Linked DNA regions of Homo sapiens. The protein of the gene in region 1 interacts with the protein of each later gene in a pairwise test. Each region holds a gene or a part of one and is shown in the gene's direction. Other genes may lie near its edges.

What was found.
Region 2: the proteins of DEFB103B (region 1) and ODF4 interact in binary tests that used the Homo sapiens proteins (3 or more experiments, as listed by UniProt).

What each region holds. Positions count from the first base shown.
Region 1 is NC_000008.11:7,428,357-7,434,815, reverse strand, and holds DEFB103B (beta-defensin 103 precursor), read left to right. Parts: upstream 1-4,467; 5' UTR 4,468-4,685; coding exon 4,686-4,743; intron 4,744-5,686; coding exon 5,687-5,832; 3' UTR 5,833-5,928; downstream 5,929-6,459. UniProt on the Homo sapiens protein: Exhibits antimicrobial activity against Gram-positive bacteria S.aureus and S.pyogenes, Gram-negative bacteria P.aeruginosa and E.coli and the yeast C.albicans. Kills multiresistant S.aureus and vancomycin-resistant E.faecium.
Region 2 is NC_000017.11:8,342,565-8,346,573, forward strand, and holds the end of ODF4 (outer dense fiber protein 4), read left to right. Parts: intron 1-2,778; coding exon 2,779-2,913; intron 2,914-3,103; coding exon 3,104-3,288; 3' UTR 3,289-3,482; downstream 3,483-4,009. UniProt on the Homo sapiens protein: Component of the outer dense fibers (ODF) of spermatozoa which could be involved in sperm tail structure, sperm movement and general organization of cellular cytoskeleton.

The sequences.
Region 1 (6,459 bases):
GCTCTGCAGAACTGCAGAGGAGGGAGGGATCTCTTTCAACTGGGGTGATTGTGATCATGAGGAACTGGTATTTGAGTTGGTCCCTGAAAATTATGCAAACCACTTTGTAGAAAGAATTGGCTGATGGCTGTAAACCCAGCACTTTGGGAGCGCGAGGAGGGCAGGTCCCTGGAGATCAGGAGTTCAAGACCAGCCTGGCCAAAGTGGTGAAACCCTGTCTCTACTAAAAATACAAAAATTAGCTGGGCATGGTGGTGCAAACTTATAGTCTCAGCTATTTGGGAGGCTGAGGTGGGAGAATCGCTTGAACCCGGGAGGTGAAAGTTGCAGTGACCCAAGATTGTGCCACTTCACTCCAGCCTGGGAGACAGGGTGAGATTCTGTCCCCCCCTCCAAAAAAAGAAAGAAGAGTCAGAAAGAACCTAGTTTCCAACATCTATCACCAAGCAATTTGGAGAATGAAGTTGATATTTACAGAAAAAGTGATGTAAAGATTGGTTGAGAACATTGGGGAAATGGTCCAGACTAGAGATGAAGATGGAAGGTAGCTGCATGCAGGCATAGATAACCACATCCCAAAGATCATATGAAGCCAGCAGAGGCCCACGAGTAAGCATCTGGAATACAGTTAGGAGCATGGGAGCATCAACTGGCCTTTCCCCATTTGGGAAATGCAGATAAGTGTATCAACATTATTAAATTACTGCATGATTCAAATGAAATAAATGCAAGTAAATTGCTTAGCACAGTGTCTAGAACATAATATGTGCTCAATAGATCTGTTACAATGACGTGACAATGATGATAAGGAGGAGGATCATTATCATCATCATCATTATGATTGCCATGAAAATGTTAAATTCTTGAAGATGTTCCCTTTTGGGGACTTCAGGGACAGGAGAAGGAGGAAAACTTCCATGATGAATCAAAGGCAGTAATGGGAAGGATAGGAGGAGACAATGGAAAGCGGATGTCTGTTATATCGTGTTACTGTCAGCTTGTATCTTTTTCCATTAGACTGGGAAATAGTGAAAATTCAGAGCCTAGAGAGTAAATATTGTTTATCTTTCTTTCCTGCACAGCACCAGGTCCTAAGACCCTAATACAGAGCAGATGTCCATGAAGTTCTCTGGACGTTGAATTGAAATTGAGGAATAGGTTTCTGAAAGTGGCCTTACGAGGCACATGTTGCAAAACGGTCAGGTAGGAAGATTACAGACAAAAAACTCATTGAGCTGGGGATGTAAAAGGCTTGGCTGGACTTAGGAAGAGTAGTTTGGACAGATTTCTTGAGATGCTAGGATGCAAAGAATTTAGGGACAATGGGGTGATGGAAAAGGGTACACACCTAAGTATAGACCACTACACATGAGTGTAGATCACCAATAGTCAAGGGATGACTCTGAGAGCAGGCAGAGAAATGACTGGACATGCTGGCTTCAGGTCACAATGCTGCAATTCACTACAGCATGTCATTCAACCTCTCTGAGCCTCAGTGTCTTCATCTATAAAATTGGAAAAATGTCTGCCTTTATTTGTATAACTTATATAATGGTGGTTGTGACAAGATTAATGGCTGCAAAGGAGAATGGCTGAGCCAACCTTCATCTTAGACTATGTCAAGATGAAGAGGAGTTGACACCCTGGATTCCCGTGCTGGGAGCCCATGCCAGAGTCTTGATATTGTTAACCGAGGGTCACGTGGGTGATACTTGGGTGATACATGGGTCACATGGTGATTTGCAATGTACAAGTCAATTTCACACCATTAACTCATAGGGCTTTCACTGTGACCTAAACAGGAAATGTACTGCTCTCTGTGCTTTGTTGCTGAGTTACAGATGCTCACAGAGCTTAGGTAATTTATTCAGGTAAACCCACGCCATACACGGTAGGGCTGAGTGATGGCCCAATGACGCCTCACTTCAGACCTGGTGTTTGTCTTCTACATAGCTCTGCCCTTCTGCCACAAACTTGGACCAATCACATCTCAGCTCCACATTTTAAGAACAGGATTTAAAAAATAATAATTAAAGGAAAGTCTGACATGAACAAAGGTGATAAATAACTAAAGTTTCTCTTCCTTGCTCAACCTAATCAAAATGTCAAAATGCTGGCTGTGAGAGCTACAAGGAAACCAAGCACATGGGTACAAAAATTTGCAGGATCTGCAGTTCCAAGCGCTGTGACTCAGAGCCCAGGGGCAGGGAGTGACAAGACCCAGCTGTCGTTAGTGTTGTATGGCTTCAGACACATGAATCTATTCACCCAACTATTAGACAGCACACGTGTACTTGTTATCATTTGAGAGGCTAAAAGTATTGAAGACATAAAAAGGATTATAATAAGCCAAAAAGAGGACAATTCACAGTTGTCAGTGGCTCCCTGAAGTAGAGAAGTAAATTACACAGTCTCTCTCTTCTATTGTTTGAAATTTTACCATAAAAATGCATTACTTTTATAATTTTCTTAAAACAGGTAAGTCCCCCTCAAAACGGATTTTGTGTGTCTGGAGTATGTCCAAACTTGAAAAGGCTGATTGTCACAGCCCAATCTCCAATTCCCAGCTCCCAAACTAGTTGACAAGAAAAAGTGGCATTTTTCCTCACCAAGGAACTTTTATGAAATAGTGGTGTTGCCATAAAAATGCCTCCCAGTCTATGAAGGAACAGGTTAGACCAGGGGTTCACCTGTGGAAGTCTATTCTCCATGTGGAAAAGCAAGTCATCTCCAGCGTCTGACTGTCCTCACCCCAGGCTGAGAGCTGGTGCTAACCCTCTACAACGCCCAATGCCATCGTTATGTCTGACATAGTAAGACTGTGAAGTCAGCACCCATCCCACCCACACTCACCTCCTTCCCCCATTTATAAATATCTCCAATTGCTTTGTCTCAAATCATGAACTAAAGAGGAAAGTTAGATTTTAAAAAGTAGCATCTACCTATCTAAAGTCTTAAATCTGCTGATTGAGCTCCACTCTTGGCTCAAAGAGTTATCTTTGAGTTATGATGAGTTATCTTTCTTCTACGTTTCTGCAGCCCTGTGCTTGAAATCTTCCTATGACTCCCATTATAATTCATCCTAAATTTATCATTTGACTGTCTGCCCATCTACCTGGCCCTACATGGAGCTTCTGGAGAGAAAGAACCAAGACTGGTCCCTCTTGGTATCTCATCCACTTCACCCTCACCTATGCTGAAGACATGATACTTGTCCCTTCCTATAGTATGTGTTCAGAGTTTTCTTACTGAATCTGACAGGTGTGGTGCACCCAAATTCTGAACACACACTCCCAGAACTAACACACCCTTGATCCTTAGTGGATCCGTTATAATTGCATTCACACGAAGCAGCAGCTAGGAGACATCACGGTGACTTCAGCTCCCAATTGAATTGTCATTGACTTACTTAGTTCCCAATTGATAGTCAACCAAATACAACCCATCCATTGGATTCCTGAACATTTAAGTTTAATAGCTGTTTTTTTTTTCTTTTTTAGCATTTTTCCCTCTAAACGTTGAATCTATATGCAGGGGAAATCATCTGGCCCCTGGACTGCCTTGAATGCTCCTGAGCCAAGAGTAACTTGAGGTCTTAAATGTCTATTCTGAAGCCCCTCTTTTGCACAGGGACAGTCATTGACTAGGAGGAGATGCCAGTCTATTAAATCTATCATCCCAGCATCCTCTTTCTCTGATGAAGTAAAATTAAACACCTTCTTTACTCATAAATTTGGTAGGTTTTAGACAATGATGAAGAATCGGACATGGGCCGCACACAGTGGCTCATACCAGTAATCCCAGCAATTTAGGAGGCTGAAGCAGGAGGATTGCTTGAGCCCAGGAGTTCACATCTGGGCTCGAAACCAGTCTGGGCAGCATAGTGAGACCCCATTTTATTTTCTACAGAAAATTTAAAATTTAGCCATGTGTGGAGGTATGCGTTTGTGGTCCCAGCTACTCAGGGGGCTGAAGTGGGAGGACCTCTTGAGCCTGACAGCTCAAGCTGTTGTGAGCTGTAATCATGCCACTGCACTCCAGCCTGCACAAAAAAGTGAGACTCTGTCTCTCAAAAAAAAAAAAAAAAAATGAAAGAATGAGACATGTTTCACTCAAATTATAGCACCCCATCATAGGCCAAGGGCCAGGTGGTCAGCTAACCTTGAATGTAGCCCATTTTCCTCCCTTACCTCACTACCAAAAAGCCAGTCCTATTGCCAGATATTGAATATGTCCAGGGCTGGATTTATTTGGTCCCCAGGAGGGTCTTAGACTCTCCCAGCATTTTAGGAAGAGAAAAAAAGCTCCAAAGCAGCAAAGTACGGACAAGTCAGCCCCCAGCCACATGCCCTGAGACTATTCCCCAAAGGGGGCATACTTGCTCATGCCAGCCCTATCTGTACCCACAACCCAATCTGACCCACACCCAGACAAGCCCCTGGAGTCCAGAGAGCACCCGGACAGCCACAAATCCATAGGGAGCTCTGCCTTACCATTGGGTTCCTAATTAACTGAGTGAGTGGGTGTGTTCTGCATGGTGAGAGGCATTGGAATGATGCATCAGAAAACATGTCATAATGTCATCACTGTAATATGACAAGAATTGCAGCTGTGGCTGGAACCTTTATAAAGTGACCAAGCACACCTTTTCATCCAGTCTCAGCGTGGGGTGAAGCCTAGCAGCTATGAGGATCCATTATCTTCTGTTTGCTTTGCTCTTCCTGTTTTTGGTGCCTGTTCCAGGTAAGATGGGCTGGGAAATCTAAGGATTGATCTAATTGAGAATATATAATTCAGAGTCAGTATTTCTCCATCCTTCAGAGTGCTTTGGACCAAGCAGGTTTGTTGTATGGGAACTAGGCATCACCACTTTTTTTTCAGACAAGAATCATTAAGAGGCCAGGTGCGGTGGCTCATGCCTGTAATCTCAACACTTTGGGAGGCCGAGGTGGGCGGATCACGAGGTCAGGAGTTCAAGACCAGCCTGGCCAAGATGGTGAAACCCCATCTCTACTAAAAATACAAAAATTATCTGGGCACAGTGGCGGGCACCTGTAATCCCAGCTACTCGGGAGGCTGAGGCAGAGAATTGCTTAAACCTGGCAGGCGGAGGTTGCAGTAAGCCGAGATCACGCCACTGTCCTCCAGACTGGGTGACAGGGTGAGAGTACACCTCAAAAAAAAAAAAAAAGAAAAGAATCATTAAGAAACTAAATAGCTCCCCAAAGCTATCTCTTTCCCCAACTCTTCAAGGGAAGATTATTATACCAGCTGATGAGACATGAATCAGACATAAAAGTTTAATGTAGCAGGAAAGATTGATTTACTCTGAGAATAGAAGCACAGGCTCCTGTTCTACTAAGTGCAATGGTTGGAGGTGGAGTGTTGGGGCTACCTCTGAGGACACCACAGCCTCAGCACCCCCACTGTTCCTGCGGCAGTCACAGGGTCACGCCACTTCCCCGGTGCCACTGTGGGTCCACAGCTGAGCTGCAGCCTTAGAAACATTGTCTATGGGTTGTGTAGTCATACCTTCATCTTCCTCCTGATTTTATAGAAAAAGGAAAAAGAAACAAAAGAATACAAGAAAAGCAAGGGATGAGTTATTTGAGGAATTCCACAAGCCTTGTACGTGTACCAAAAGCCTTCCTAAAACCTTTCCGTGTGTGCTGTTTTGTCATTGCAGGTCATGGAGGAATCATAAACACATTACAGAAATATTATTGCAGAGTCAGAGGCGGCCGGTGTGCTGTGCTCAGCTGCCTTCCAAAGGAGGAACAGATCGGCAAGTGCTCGACGCGTGGCCGAAAATGCTGCCGAAGAAAGAAATAAAAACCCTGAAACATGACGAGAGTGTTGTAAAGTGTGGAAATGCCTTCTTAAAGTTTATAAAAGTAAAATCAAATTACATTTTTTTTTCAAAAAAAATTAGGAGCTTGATTTTTTTTTTTAAATCTGATTATTTTGGTACTTGTTTCCAAACAGACAACTCAGAAAATCTTAAGGACTCACCTTTCGTTCAAAGAAAGTAGAATCTCTGGAGAAATCTATAAGGGAGCCCAACCTTATTATCCAAGGGTTATCAGGTTCTATTCCTACTTTGTGAACGTTATGCCCCAGTGAAGTTGGACTCTTCACTCTCTTGGAATATGCCCTTTGCTTTCATGTCATCCAAGCCTTGGGCCTTTTCAGTCCCTCTACCCCAAATGGCATCTCTCCACCAAATCTATCTCTAAGGTTTTCATGCATCCCTCAGGGGCTATCCCAATTCCTTCCAAAAACTTTGTCTTCAGAGAAATAAGGAAACTGGCTCTTCCTCAGATATTCACTTTGCTTTCTCTCACCCATGCCTCTGCTCTGGTTGACCTCATGTCTGCCTCACTCCTCCAACTTCATCTCTAAACTTTAACCTGTCCTTCAGGGACCGTCTCACATTTTATCTCCACCTTAAAAACACAG
Region 2 (4,009 bases), on another chromosome or scaffold:
TTTAAAATTTATTTAATTAGGATTAGGTGTGTATAAACAGTGAAAATTCAAAGAATACAAAAGATTGTATACTGAAGTGAGTCTGTTATCTCTTAGTATCCAGTCTCCCTCCCTAGTTTCTCCTGTTTCTTTCCAGAGACACTCTATTCAGAGACAAGCATCTATTTTTATTTTTATTTTGAGACAGTGTCTCACTCCGTCACCCAGGATGGACTGCAGTGGTGTGATTGTAGTTTATTGCACTGCAGCCTCAAACTGCTGGGCCCAAGTGATCCTCCCACCTTGAAGCTCCCAAGTAGCTGGCACCACAGATGCCACCATGCCTGGCTACTTTTTTTTTTTTAATTTGTAGAGACCAGGGTCTCCCTCTGTTGCCCAGGCTGGTCTCCAACTCCTGGGCTCAAGTGATTCTCCTGCCTCCACCTCCCAAAGTGTTGGGATTACCGGTGTGAGCCATTGTGCCCAGTCTATCACCTATCACCATTTTAAATGAACACACAATAACACAATGTATGGGGATAGTATAATTTATTTTACAAATCTCTTCTAAATCAAGGAGCTTATTGGACATTTTTTTTTTTTTTTGAGATGGAGTCTTGCTCTGTTGCCCAGGTTGGTGTGCAGTGGCATGATCTCGGCTCAGTGCAACCCCTGCTTCCTGGGCTCAAGTGATCCTTCCACCTCAGTTTCCCCAGTAGCTGAGACTACAGACAGGTGCCACTACACCTGGCTAATTTTTGTATTTTTAGTAGAGACGGGGTTTTTACCATGTTGGCCAGGCTGGTTTCAAACTCCTGACCTCAAGTGATCCGCCCACCTCAGCCTCTCAAAGTACTGGGATTATAGGCGTGAGCCAGCACACCCAGCCGACATATTAATATCTCTGCAAAGAAGATTCCTGTACTGAGATTTTGCTGCAGATCTCTGATTATTCCTTAACATAAATTCCAAGAAGAAGCATTGTAGGGTCAAAGAATGTAGATTTTCTGGATCTTTTGTACCAGATCATTCACCACAAATGCTGCCCACCAGGAGCGTATGAGAGGACCTCTTTTCTCTACATACTCTCCTATACTAGGTGTTATCAATCTTATTTTGATCTTTGCTAATTTGACAGTTTATATATATGTATGTAGAGATGGGGTTTCACCATGTTGGTCAGGATGGTCTCGATCTCCTGACCTCGTGATCTGCCCACCTCGGCCTCCCAAAGTGCTGGGATTACAGGTGTGAGCCACCGCACCCAGCCAAGTGTGTGTGTGTGTGTGTGTGTGTGTGTGTGTGTCTATATATATATAGACTGCAACCTCAGCTTCCTGGGATCAAGCGATTCTCTTGTCTCAGCTTCCCAGCAGCTGGGATTACAGGCGCATGCCACCATGCCCAGCTAATTTTTATATTTTTAGTAGCGATGGGGTTTCACCATGTTGCCCAGGCTGGTCTCGAACTCCTGATCTCAAGTGACCTGCCCACCTCGGCCTCCCAAAGTGCTAGGATTACAGGGGTGAGCCACTGCACCCGACACCAATTGTATATTTTTAAAGAGACAGGGCCTCCCTATGTTGTCCAGGCTGCTCTCAAACCCTCAGGCTCAAGAGATCCTCCCACCTCAGCTTCCCAAAGTGGTGGGATTACAGGTGCGAGCCACCATGCTCAGCCTCGATGGTTTTTCACAAATCACATTTAATTAGCAATTCTTTGTGTTGAGCTTTATATGTTTATCAGACATTTGTACTCCTTCTTTGGAGAATTGCAGTTTAAGTCCTCTGTACATTTTTTCTGTTGAGGTATTCATTTGCATGTGGTTGAGGTTATCAAACAATATCCATATCAAGGATCTCGGATTGTTTAAGAAGTGAAAGCAATATTTCATTTTTATTTCAAATGTGCATTTCTCTGATTATTAATGGGTCTGTACATTTTCTTTCTGTCTTTTTTGTTTTTTGTTTTTTGCAGGCGGCGTCTCGCTCTGTTGCCCAGGCTGGAGTGCAGTGGCTCACCACAACCTCCGCTTCCCAGGTTCAAGCGATTCTCCTGCCTCAGCCTCCGGAGTAGCTGAGACTACAGGCATGCACCACCATGCCCAGCTAATTTTTGTATTTTTAGTAGAGACGGGGTTTCGCTATGTTGGCCAGGCTGGTCTTGAACTCCTGACCTTGTGATCCACCTGCCTCGGCCTCCCAACGTGCTAGGATTACAGGCGTGAGTCACCGCGCCTGGCGGTACATTTTCTTGTATTTGCTCATTTGATTATGTTTCATCTTTTGTAAATCCTTAGTTGATCTTGTTTGTTTGTCATTTTCCCCAGGCAGTTTTAAGCTGTGGACAATCAGCCCATGTTTAAGGTGGCTAAGTTAAGCTTCAACCTGACCCTGGGGCTGGGCCTCGTCCTCACCATCTGGTTGCACCTGCCCTACCTGCCCGCTGTTCAAAAATTGCCCTTTGTGGGCTTCGGGACCATCTTGAGCTTCTGTGAAGGTGCCTCCTAGCTCTGGAAAGGTCCTTTGTTTTCCTAACCCCCATCTTCCTGGGCACTTCTCCCTCTTCTTTGGGGGTGGTATGAGGGTTTTGTGGGTGGTGGGAGAACAGAACCGAGAATCGAGTTACATCATTTCTTGGTCACAGGAGAGGTAGAAATGCAGGGGTTGACTCCTGGAACCTCAGGGCCAGTCACTCTGTGTGTGGTGATGTGGTTTGTGGCTGTAGCCTAGCAGATGAGGAAGAACCTCCTGTGGGACTCTTGTATGACAATGAGACCCTCTGCCTCCTGTCTCCTAGTCACCTTCATCTTCTCCACCCTCATGCTATTCCCCATTAACATCTGGATCTTCGAGTTGGAAAGGAATGTATCCATCCCCATAGGCTGGAGCTATTTCATTGGTTGGCTGGTGCTTATCCTATACTTCACCTGCGGTGAGTGGCCAGAGGGCCCTGGGGGAAGGAAGCGACATGGGTAGGGTAGGGCAGGGAAAGTGTGGAGGGAAGAGGCTGGCAATCCCCAGGGCTAGATTTTTAGGGTCTTATCTTCCCTTTGGTCTCACCCTACTTGTCACTTAACCTCCCAGTCACAACTTTCCTCTCCCCTGTCCCTGTCCTTTCCCAGCGATCCTTTGCTACTTCAACCATAAAAGTTTCTGGAGTCTGATTCTGAGCCACCCCAGTGGTGCCGTGTCCTGCAGCAGCAGTTTCGGCTCAGTAGAAGAATCTCCAAGGGCACAGACGATCACAGACACCCCCATCACCCAGGAGGGAGTCCTGGATCCTGAGCAGAAGGATACACATGTGTAATCTTTTCTGAACTCCTGGCACCAAGTTCTGTCCATTCATCTGACCCCATCTCCTCATCCTCCCCCAGCCCTTGAATAGGTTGGTCCTCATCATTGCAAGGAATGAGAAAGGGAGGATTTTGCACTCCTCTGCTTTCTCCCTGCCTTGATTGAGCTTGAGTGATGTGGAATAAATTGTCCGTCTCTTCTTTCTCATATCTGGCTGTTGTTGAGGCAAGCTAGAGGAGGAGGGAGAGGAAGGGAGAAAGAACAAGTTTGTTTTCCAGTTCTTCCTGCCCAGGAGCCTTTTGGCACCCGTTAGTGCCTAAACCTGCCCAACCTCTACCAGAACATACTTGTACATGGGCAAACGCCTCTGGAGAGCTAAACCTCTTTTTACTTTGTTACCCCTGACCCAACATTTGCTAGTTAGTGGGTGGAGGAGGTAGAGCTGATTAGGAGACAGATATCACTTGCCAACTTGTTGGCTTAAGCATAGTGAAGGATTCAAAAGCCAAATGGCTCAAAGATAAGAGGCAGGTTAAACAAGGAGCACCACAGCACAAGTGGTCAGCCCAGGTGTGTGTCCTGGGCAGCAGTCCCACCCTCTGTGTCCAGCTCCGATGACAGAGCGCATAGAGCCTGTGCCCTGGAAACCACCACTACCACCATCCCCCCAGGCTGCTATAGCTTTCCACCCAAGCCTCCCACACCCTCCACCATGTAACAGCAGGAATAAAACA